Linked DNA regions of Homo sapiens: region 2 is linked to region 1. The links come from fine-mapping of genetic effects on gene expression. A gene starts in region 1. The other region holds a variant in brackets. All regions are shown on one strand. Distances are from middle to middle. Region 1 holds the start of RNASE6 (ribonuclease A family member 6). Region 2 holds the start of LOC124903282 (a long non-coding RNA gene).

Region 1 (5,381 bases):
ATATAAATAACAATAGCATGAGCAATTGAGTTGTTTGGTTTTACTAGATTACCTTTAAGAATCTCTGGCAATTTCCAGGTAATGTTCATATAAATCCATTCAACCCCTTTCCTTTCAGATGCTGCTACTTTCGTATACTTGTTCATACCAAACGTGAGCACAGATTCTCCCTGCCATTCCACCACACTTTACATGAAGACTCTGAGACAATAAAATGTAAATGCAACATGGCTTAAAGCTGAATACAACTGAAAGCTGCTTTGAGTTAGAGCACTCAAGTCCCACTGTAGGATTCCCTCTATAAGGTACCCACCTTCTTAGGTGCCATATTGCCCTGACCTGCTAATCTCTTCCCAATGGGAGGGCCCTTGATCAGTCATCACCCTGGAATCCAGGCTCCTGAAACCTCATATTCCATTCTTTGTTCCTAAGATATGACATAAATGTGTAGCGTAAAGGAAGGTGAGCTGAGTTAGCATATCTATTAAACTAATAGTCTGGCTTGGAAAGAATCATTTGCAGCACAGGTAATGAAGACACTACAATATGTAGCCTTTTCAAAAAAACTTCATTGTCTTTGGCTGCTACTTGAAGACTCATCACTGTACAAAGCACTTGGGATTTACACTGGCCCACTAGCCCAATGACTCTAGAGGTTGACAAGGAAACTGAAGTTCCTTCTGTGAAATGGCTTAGTTCAGGTTCTGTTCCAAAACCCCAATACTTCTGTGGTATTTCAGTATTTACATAGGACTAGAATGTTTTTAGTTTCCTAGTGCTTTTTTCTCTTTCTTTCTTTCCTTTTTTTTTTTTTTTTTTTGAGACGGGAGTTTCGCTCTGTCACCCAGGCTGGAGTGCAGTGGTGCAATCTCGGCTCACTACAGCCTCTGCCTCCCAGGTTCAAGCGATTCTCTTGCCTCAGGCTCCTGATTAGCTGGGATTACAGGCTCCTGCCATCATGTCTGGCTAATTTTTTGTATTTTTAGTAGAGATGGGGTTTCACCACATTGGCCAGGCTGGTCTCAAACTCTTGGCCTCAAGTCGTCTGCCTGCCTCGGCCTCCCAAAGTGCTGGGATTACTGGTGTGAGCCACTGCATTGGGTCTCCTGGTGCTTTTCTCTTTTTCTTTTTTTGTTTTTGAGATGGGAGTCTCACTCTGTTGCCCAGGCTGGAGTGCAGTGACACAATATTTGCTCACTGCAACTTCTACCTCCTGGGTTCAAGCGATTCTCCTGCCTCAGCCTCCCGAGTAGCTGGGATTACAGGCACTGCCACCACGCCCAGCTACTTTTTTTGTATCTTTAGTAGAGATAGCGTTTCACCATGTTGGCCAGGCTGGTCTTGAACTCCTGACCTCAGACGATCCACCTGCCTCAGCCTCCTAAAGTGCTGGGATTACAGGCGTGAGCCACCACGACAAGCCTAGTGCTTTTTTCTTGATCTATGCTTTCTATTTATCCATTTCAATAAATAATGGAGGATTGACCCTAAGGTTACTACAATGGATTATTATCCCTATTACTACTACTATCACCTTATATTTAAAACATTATCTGATTAAAAACGGAAACAAATAGAAAAGACATAGGATCCTTCAGTTGCCAGTGACAGAATCTATGTGTGAGTTATCATCAACTGTCTTTGAGGTATCAGTACTACCTCCAATTAAGCATAGACAATGGTTTCCAGGGGAATATATAAAGTCATGAGCAGAGTTTGAAGAAATGCTCCAAAGTCCCAAACGCTGTCCTTTCTTGTGGGCAAGGAAGTGGGGCCCCAGGGAGGCCTCAAAAGTTTTCTAGGGACTTAAAGTCAAAACAGTGTTCCTCTGAGTACCGGTCAACAATGCTTTGAAAGCGGATCTCAAACACACACTCATTAGAATGCAGCAGGAAGTGGTTTTATTGCTGTGAACACAGGGCAATAAAGCTTGGCAAAAGTTGCAGGGTTAGAAATCTGAATCTTTCTTTGCTGTCTTCCCTATTCCCTTCTCTCGAAAAGTACAGAACTACAAAGCAGAAAATAATCTTATTTCTTTTTGTCTCAACTCTGGTCTGGCATCCTAGGCACTCGAATTCTCCAAACACCTTTCTTCTTTCTTCTACGGGAACAAGAAAATCAACAAAAGAAAAGAAAACATGGATGCAATTGTAACAGAAGCTATGTCAAATGAAAGGAAATGCAGTGGATGCCTTAGAGAATACTATCTAAGTGTACAGGAACCAACTTGTAGGGGGGATCGCTCTTCTGAGGGGGGTCACAGGCAACAATGAAGAATTTGTACTGGGCAGCAGCACTATAGCGGCACTGGGGATACTTTCCTGAAGTGAGTCTGCAGTCAGTCATGTTGACAGGCTTTGAGCTCTGGTGGCAGTTGTGCCGACGATTTTTGCAGACAATGCTGAGCAAATCACAGACAGCAGCCACATTCTGGAAAGAGTCATGCAGAAAGGTATTTTGATGCTTACAGTGCTGGGTATAATTGTTGATGCCACTCATTGCCCTGTTGCATTGGAGAGGACTTGGCTGTATATGCTGAATTTCAAACCAGTGAGCCTTGGTGAGACGCTTAGGCCAAGCATGAAGTGGACACACTGGTCCCCATAGAACCAGCAGCAGTAAAAGAAGAGGAAAGCATAGCACCATCTTTTCTGTGTAGAAAGAGAGAAGATAGTTATAGTAGGAGAAGCAATAAGAGCAAAATTTTTAATCATAACTATTTAGATTTTTATTTTGCCTTTTAAGATTTTACAGCTCCCTTTAAAATCTTCTTTCTCACATAGTCTCACAATTCTATGAAGAACCTGAAGCCCAGGAAACAGAAATATGACCTCTCCTTTGATTGGCATATCCCATTTTCTTTCACAAGTACTCATGCATTTGATGGCTGTCATATCAGAAAGTTTCTTCCCTCTTCCCTCCTGAAATATTTACCCTCTATCTGACCACTACCTCCCAGCCGTCTTTACTGCTCTACTCGCTCCAGCCCTGAGGCTTTCTTTCTTACCTGGTCTCAGTGTTGGGGCTCCTGCTGAGAACAGAGGCTGTGATTAGTCCAAAGCTCAGAAGCTGTTGTCTGCCTTTCTTCTCTAACCCTTCGAGCCCTGTGTGTATAGGGAAGGGGAAGAAATATTCTGAGCTTTCAGAAGGAGAATCCTAGGGTTTGGCAGATTAACTTCTTGTGCAGAGTCTGGATTAAACTCTTAGACTTTCACACCTGTTCTTTAAAACAGTATCATTATCACATGTATACAGGAAGGCTAAACCAACTTAAAGAAACAACATGACTGAAAACTCACAGTTTTGAGGAACTGATCACTTCCTGATATGGAATGAGTGCTTCCTGCCTCATCTGAGGCTTCAGTGTTTTTTTTTGAAGCTTTATGATTCCTGTTTCTTAAGAGAAAATATGTCACATAAATATGATATAATGCCTGCCACATACTTGGTAATGTTGTAAGTTCCTACAACAGAAGTGAATACATTATTCATTTATGCATATACTTATTGGGCCAGGTACTAGGCTACACAAATTCAGGAGCTCATGAGTTTTTTTTTTTTTTTTTTTTGAGACGGAGTCTTGCTCTGTCGCCCAGGCTGGAGTGCAGTGGTGCGATCTTTGCTCACTGCAAGCTCCACCTCCTGGGTTCATGCCATTCTCCTGCCTCAGCCTCCCGAGTAGCTGGGACTACAGGTGCCTGCCATCACGCCCAGCTAATTTTTTTGTATTTTTAGTAGAGACGGGGTTTCACTGTGTTAGCCAGGATGGTCTCTATCTCCTGACCTCGTGATCTGCCAGGAGCTCATGATTTAATGAAAGAGATTAGAGACAGGCAGGTAAGTATATAGACAAGTAGATTATATTAATATAAATAGCACTTACAGTGTGATGGAGGACACTGCAGGAGGCTACGGGAAGATAGTAGAGGGGAAGGATTGTTGGAGGGCACAACACCTGAACTGAATTTTGAGGAATAATTAGAAGTTAGGTGAAGAGAGTGTTAAGCGCCTCCCAAAGACAGAATTGTGTATGAAAAGACCTGTAAGCCTGAAGAAGAAGGCCGAATTTAGGATATTTGCCTCTTGAATCTGTTCTTACCTTTTCACTGGTACTGCAACACCCTTATTCAGAAACTCATTGTCTTATGGAGGGCTCACATAAAAGCCTCCCACATGGACTCCTTGCCTTGTTTTTTTCTCCTTCCAATCCATTCTACATATTACTTCCAGATTAGTCTTTTTTTGAACAAGATATAATAGTACAACACTCTTGCCCCATGCTTTTATGGCTCCAAATGTCTGCAGAATAAACATAATGTCTGTTTATAGCAAGGTTGCAGGATACAAGGTTAATATACAAAAGTCAGTTGCTTTCTTATATACCAGCAATGAACAATTGCAATTTGATATTTAAAACACAATACCATTTATATTGCACCAAAGAAAGTGAAATACTTAGGTGTAAATCTAATACATTATGTAAAAATTGGTATGAGGAAAAATTTAAAACTCTAATGAAAGAAATTGAGGAAGCACAGATATTCCATGTACATGAGTAGGAATACTCAATATGTTAAGATGTCATTTCCTCTCAACTTGATCTATAGATTCAGCACAATCTCAATCAATATCCCAGCACATTATTTTGTGGATAGTGACAAACTGACTCTGAAGTTTATATAAAAGTAAAAGATTCAGGTTGGACACGGTGGCTCACGCCTGTAATCCCAGCACTTTGGGAGGCCGAGGCAGGCTGATCACGAGGTCAAGAGATCAAGACCATCCTGGCTAACACAGTGAAACCCCGTTTCTACTAAAAATACAAAAAATTAGCCAGGCCTGGTGGCGGGCGCCTATAGTACCAGCTACTTGGGAGGCTGAGGCACGAGAATCGCTTGAACCCGGGAGGTGGAGCTTGCAGTGAGCCGAGATCGCACCACTGCACTCCAGCCTGGGTGACAGAGCGAGACTCTGTCTCAAAAAAAAAAAAGATTCAGAATAGTCAACACAATGCAGAAAAAGAAGAACAAAGTCAGAAAACTGACGTGACCCAACTTCAAAACTTACTATAAAGCTACAGCAATTAAGACAGTGTGTTATTGGTGAAAAATAGACAAATAGGTCAATGGAACCAAGTAGAAAGCCCAGAGGTAGACCCACACAAATACAGTGAACTAATCTGTGACAAAGGATCAATTTTCAATTGAGAAAAGTTAGTCTTTTCAACAAATGGTAGTAGAACTGAATGTACACATGCAAAAAATAAATCTTTTCATAGGTTAGACTTCATACATTTTCATAGACCTGTACTTTATATCTTTCACAATTTTTTTTTGAGATGGAGTTTCGCTTTTGTTGCCCAGGCTGGAGTGCAATGGCAT
Region 2 (5,381 bases), 66 kb after region 1:
TATATACTTGGTTTATCTTCCACTTTCTCTTCCCTTAGAACTAAAGGTCTTTTAGCACAGGCACCATCCCTGGAGTTCCCAGTACATCGAAATCAGCCCGGGGATCAAGTCCTCATCAAAAACTAGAAGGAGGAAAAGCTGGAACTGGCCTGGGAAGGACCTTATCTAGTGCTCCTAACTACTGAAAGCGCAGTCCAGACAGCAGAAAAAGGATGGACCTATCACACCCAAGTCAAGAAAGTGCCGCCCCCTCCAGAGTCGTGGGCCATAGTCCCAGGGGAAAACCCTACCAAACTAAAGCTAAGAAATTTTTTTTTTTTTTGAGACAGAGTCTTGCTCTGTTGCCCAGGCTGGAGTGCAGTGGTGCGATCTTCACTCACTGCAACCTCCACCTCCCGGGTTCGAGCAATTCTCCCGCCTCAGCCTTCCGAGTAGCTGGGATTACAGGCGTGTACCACTACGCCTGTATAATTTTTGTACTTTTAGTAGAGATGGGGTTTCACCATGTTGGCCAGGCTGGTCTTGAACTCCTGACCTCAAACGATCCACCTGTCTCGACCTCCCAAAGTGCTGGGATTACAGGCGTGAGCCAAGCTAAGAAAAATTTAACTCTCTTATTACTCCTTCTTCTTTCCTCATTCTATTGCTGACCACCTCATTATTAATGTAACAAAGTCAATTTCACCTCAAACTATTACATTTGATGCTTGCCTTGTTATACCTTGTGGAGACTTGTCAAGTTAAAGACAGCTCTCCAATTCAGAAAAGTACCTCTGTCCTTCCCGGCTCTCCTCAGACTGGACATTAGTGAATGGGGATCATTTAGTCTGGAGAGATTTCAATAAAGACCCCAGTATCAGCTGGGAGTCTTGCTCCTGCAAGACAGAGCTTTTATGCCACAGTTGGTCCAACATTCTGTGGACCACTAAAGAGCAAGGATGAGCTGCCCCAACCAGTGGTTGTAATTTCCTAAAGTCATATATTCACTTTACTAAAGGAACAGCTTCACCTAGCTGTCAGCTGAACCGTGCAATCCAATACAGGTTATTATCTCAAACCCTCAAAGCTCTTCCCCTTCTCTAAGCCGGTTCCCTTCTTTAAGCCGGTTTTATGGTGTGGGGGCTGAGGTTTCAGGAACAGACCCTATCAGATCCTTTGAAACACAATTCATTGATCCTCTGCCGCCTACACCTTCCCTTAAGCCTTCTTCCAGAAGCTCTCACAACAAAACTGTTGTTCTCCTCCATCTAATGACAAGACCAAGGTAGTTATTATAGAAGTTAAAGACCTAAAACAAACTTTGGCAATTGAGACAGAATATCAAGATGCTAATGCCTGGTTGGAGTGGATCAAACATTCCATCCACACTTTAAACAAAAGCATTTGTTATGCTTGTGCGCACGGCAGACCAGAAGCCCAGATTGTCCCCTTTCCATTAGGATAGTCCTTTAGTCTACTAGGCATGGGCTGTATGGTTACTTTTTTCCAGGATTACACAGCCTGGGGTAAAAAGTCGTGTCAAGCTCTCTCTGCTATATCCTGAGGTTCAATACCCTGCAGGTCAGCCCCCAAGGTCCACTCAGCTTCTGTCCCCTGACGCTAAGTTCACTTCATATCTCTCACTACAGGGAGGAAACTTAGCATTCCTTGGAGACCTAAAAAGATGCAGTGAGCTTAAGACTTTCCAAGAGCTTACCAATCAGTCAGCCCTTGTTCATCCCCAAGCATATGTATGGTGGTATTGTGGTGGACCTTTACTGGACTCTCTGCCAAGTAACTGGAGCAGCACTTGTGCTCTAGTTTAATTGGCTATCCCTTCCACCCTAGCATTTCATCAACCAGAGAGAGGAAAAATACAACATCATAAAACAAGGGAAGCTCCTTATGGGTCTTTCAACTCCCACATTTATTTAGATGCAATTGGAGTCCCATGAGGAGTACCAGATAAATTTAAAGATCAAGATTAAATAGCTGCAGGATTTGAGTCAAGATTAAATAGCTGCAGGATTTTGTGGGTGACAATTAATAAAAACATAGATTGGATAAATTACGTCTATTATAATTAGCAGTGGTTTATTAATTACACCAGGGATGCTGTCAAAGGGATAGCAGAACAATTGGGGCCCACTAGCCAGATGGCCTGGGAAAACAGAATGGCCCTAGATGTGATATTAGCTGAAAAAGGCAGTGTTGGTGTTATGATTAAAACTCAGGGCTGTACCTTTATCCCAAGCAACACTGCCCCCACTGGGAGCATAACAAGGGTCTTACAAGGACTTACTGCTTTATCCAATGAATTAGTTAAAGATTCTGGAGTCAATAACCCTTTCTCAGGATGGCTAGAAAGGTGGTTCAGTAGATGGAAAAGATCATAGCCTCGATTCTTACTTCTCTTGCAGCCGTAATAGGTGTACTCATTCTTGTTGGGTATTGTGTCATACCATGCGTCCGTGGGGCAGTGCAAAGAAACAGCACCTACTAAAACCTCCCTTAACTTTCCTCCACCTTATTCAGAAAAGCTTTCTTCTTTTAGAGGATCAAGTCAAGCAGCAAAGCCAAGACATGTTAAAAAGGTTTGAAGAGGAAGGCCTATGAAAATTGAAAGGGGGGAGATTGTAGGATACAGTAAATTCCTCTTCAGAGTTAGCCTGTTAACTTCCTTTAAAATTCAAGATGGTGGCTGGGCGTGGTGGCTCATGCCTGTAATCCCAGCACTTTGGGAGGCCAAGGCAGGCAGAACATGAGGTCAGGAGATTGAGACCATCCTGGCTAACATGGTGAAACCCTGTCTCTACTAAAAAATACAAAAAAATCAGCCGGGCGTGGTGGCGGGTGCCTGTAATCCCAGCTACTCAGGAGGCTGAGGCAGGAGAATGGCGTGAACCCAGGAGGCGGAGCTTGCAGTGAGCCTAGATTGCACCACTGCACTCCAGCCTGGGTGACAGAGCAAGACTCCATCTCAAAAAAAAAAAAAAATTCAAGAGGGAGAAAAAAATCATTTAAGTACAATGAGTTCTGAGTTCCTCTTCAAAGAACAAATACGTCAGTATGTTCAGCTTCCCTGTTCTTTGTTCTCCATTTTGAAGTTTAACTTCCTTGTTCTTTACACCTCCTTGCCTCTAGTTTCAGTAA[A/T]CAACCCCCTCCTAGCCTCTATCACCTGTTCTGTCCTTAGGCATCCTTACTCTCCTGTTCTGTAACTGTCCTTCCCTGATGAAACTACTCACCCCACCACTCCAGCTCATACACTCACTCTCTTTAAAATTTCCAACTGGAATTAGCTTAGACTGTGTGGTCCAACCCTAGCCAACAGGGGAAAGACACAGCAGTAGGGACTAGCTGCATTAGGAATAAGACGCCCTTCTCCTCCCTTGTCTGGTGTGCTCTCACCATTGCTCCATCTGAGAGATGCACCCTTCTATAGAAGTAAATTGCTTTGCTGAGAAAATTTTTGCCTGAGTGCTATTTTCACTCTGTGGCACCGAGCACTTACTTCCAACAGTTTGGTTACATTTTTTATCACCCAGCATGGGGCTATATGTCTCTACTGGTCTAGCGTGCCTGGTTTCCGATGGATGGAGCAATTGGCTGTGGCATCATGCCAGGGCTTACTCATTCATGCTACCAGGCAGAGCAACAACTTCTCATGAGGATTAGCTGCTCGTGGCTAGCTGACCTCCCAGCTGGGATTCTAGGGTTGTCCCAGCAGCTGCCAAGAACATCTTTTCCCTCCTTCCCCCTCTGTGGCATCAGCTGCCTGCAATGCTTTATTAGTATAAGGAAAATGATAGTTGAGGAAGTTGACAGGATTCAAGACTGGGTAAATCAAACCAGTTTGCATGCTAGAAATCCTCTGTCTCTGCCATTTGGGCTTTATGCCATTTGGACCTGACACAGGTCTTTTGCAGTATCAGTTAGCCTAAGATTTATTAACTTCCCAGTCTCCTTCTACAGGAATTGGTTCAGGAGTACTCTGTGTTGATCTGTGTGTTTGTGTTCTTTTGATCTCTCCCCTGAGAATGGGCAACTTGACTTCCATTCCATCTAAGTGGCCATTGGGCTGTATATTGGCTTATTGGAAAGCTTATAGCTATGAACTCATAACAAAAAAGATAATGATTTTTTTTCATTGTAACACTGTTTGGCCTATGTATGTGTTGGAATCTGAAAAATGGTGGCTACTGAACAGTGATTTACATTAGTACACCTTATTACAGTTGGCGTTATTTTGCCTAAGATCTGGGAAATGAAATGAGATTCCATGTGTTTAAGCATTTATTACATAACAAAGACTCAGCACATGAGGGGTCTATGTGAATGACGTAGAGAAAAGGGAAAAAGAGATTTCTCTTTCCAGATAGTAAGACCCAAAAGGAAGAGGATATTGATGATATGGGCCTCATAAATATCTTAAATTTCCCCTCCCATGTGGTACTGGGGGCACCAGCCCTCCCAGGATTACCAAATGTAGCCCAGGACCCGGAGAGGCCAAGGTGTCAGCTCCTCTCCCCAGGATGGGGAAGGAATAGAAATGGCTGCTCCACTTGCAGATTTTACTTGGGACCCCAACAATGGAGGAATGGCCCTGTCCAGTCATTATAAAAAGCATGTGTTGGCAGGGTTAAAGAGAAGAATGTAAAAGAGCTTAAATAAAGCCAGGGCAGTTCTCCCAAAGGCAGATGAGAACCCCTGTGAATTTCTGGAGTGCATTTACCAGGTTTACCACAAGTGTATGGACTATGATCCAGAAGCTCCTGAGAATATGAGAATGGTAAACGTGACTTTCATCCAATATTAAACGAAAACTGCAGAAACTGGAGGGGGTATTTGGAATAAACCTTTCCCAACTGCTGGACATTGCCTTCAGAGTATATAATGCCAGGAAGGCCAAAAAGCTAAAGCAAGCCATGATATACTTGGAATTAGTGGAAAGAATGTATATCCGAAAAGGAAAAACCAGGCACAGGGAGGTGGCCAGAACAAAACTCTAGGTAATGATCAGTCTGCCCCCTGCAAGGAGGAAGGTCATTGGAAATCTGAGTGCCCCAAATTAAAGAAAAGACAGGGAAACCAGAAGAAGGGAGACACAGTGACAGAGAAGAAACATACTGGCTGATGGTAAAGCAGGACTGTAGCTCAGATAGTGAAGGAGGCCCAAATCTTTTGGAGCAGGTTGTAATTTCCCCACAGGAACCTCAGGTACGATTGACAATGGGGAACAAATTGATTGACTTTTTAATCAATACTGGTGTGACTTATTCAGGTAGAAACACTAAAGAAACTGAAAGTACTAGGAAAACAGTGCCTGTGATGGTTGTCGCTGGCAAGATGCAGCAAACAGCCTTTCTCCAGACCCTGGAGAGTCTGGAGACTGCCGGACACAG

Evidence for each region. PIP is the estimated chance that this variant, and not a neighbour inherited with it, causes the effect.
Region 2: its variant is fine-mapped to the expression of RNASE6 in whole blood (TOPMed, PIP above 0.99).

What each region holds. Positions count from the first base shown.
Region 1 is chr14:20,778,965-20,784,345 of GRCh38, reverse strand. RNASE6 (ribonuclease A family member 6) reads right to left here and starts at 3,078. Exons shown (of 2, transcript NM_005615.5): 1 at 3,008-3,078; 2 at 1,879-2,651. The coding sequence starts at 2,646. The coding sequence ends at 2,194. All of the region lies in intron 1 of LOC107984671 (a long non-coding RNA gene), which reads left to right. RefSeq lists an enhancer at 1,934-2,003.
Region 2 is chr14:20,713,302-20,718,682 of GRCh38, reverse strand. It overlaps LOC124903282 (a long non-coding RNA gene), which reads left to right and starts at 2,960. Exons shown (of 2, transcript XR_007064061.1): 1 at 2,960-5,381. The variant A/T (reference allele first, on the strand shown) is at 3,133.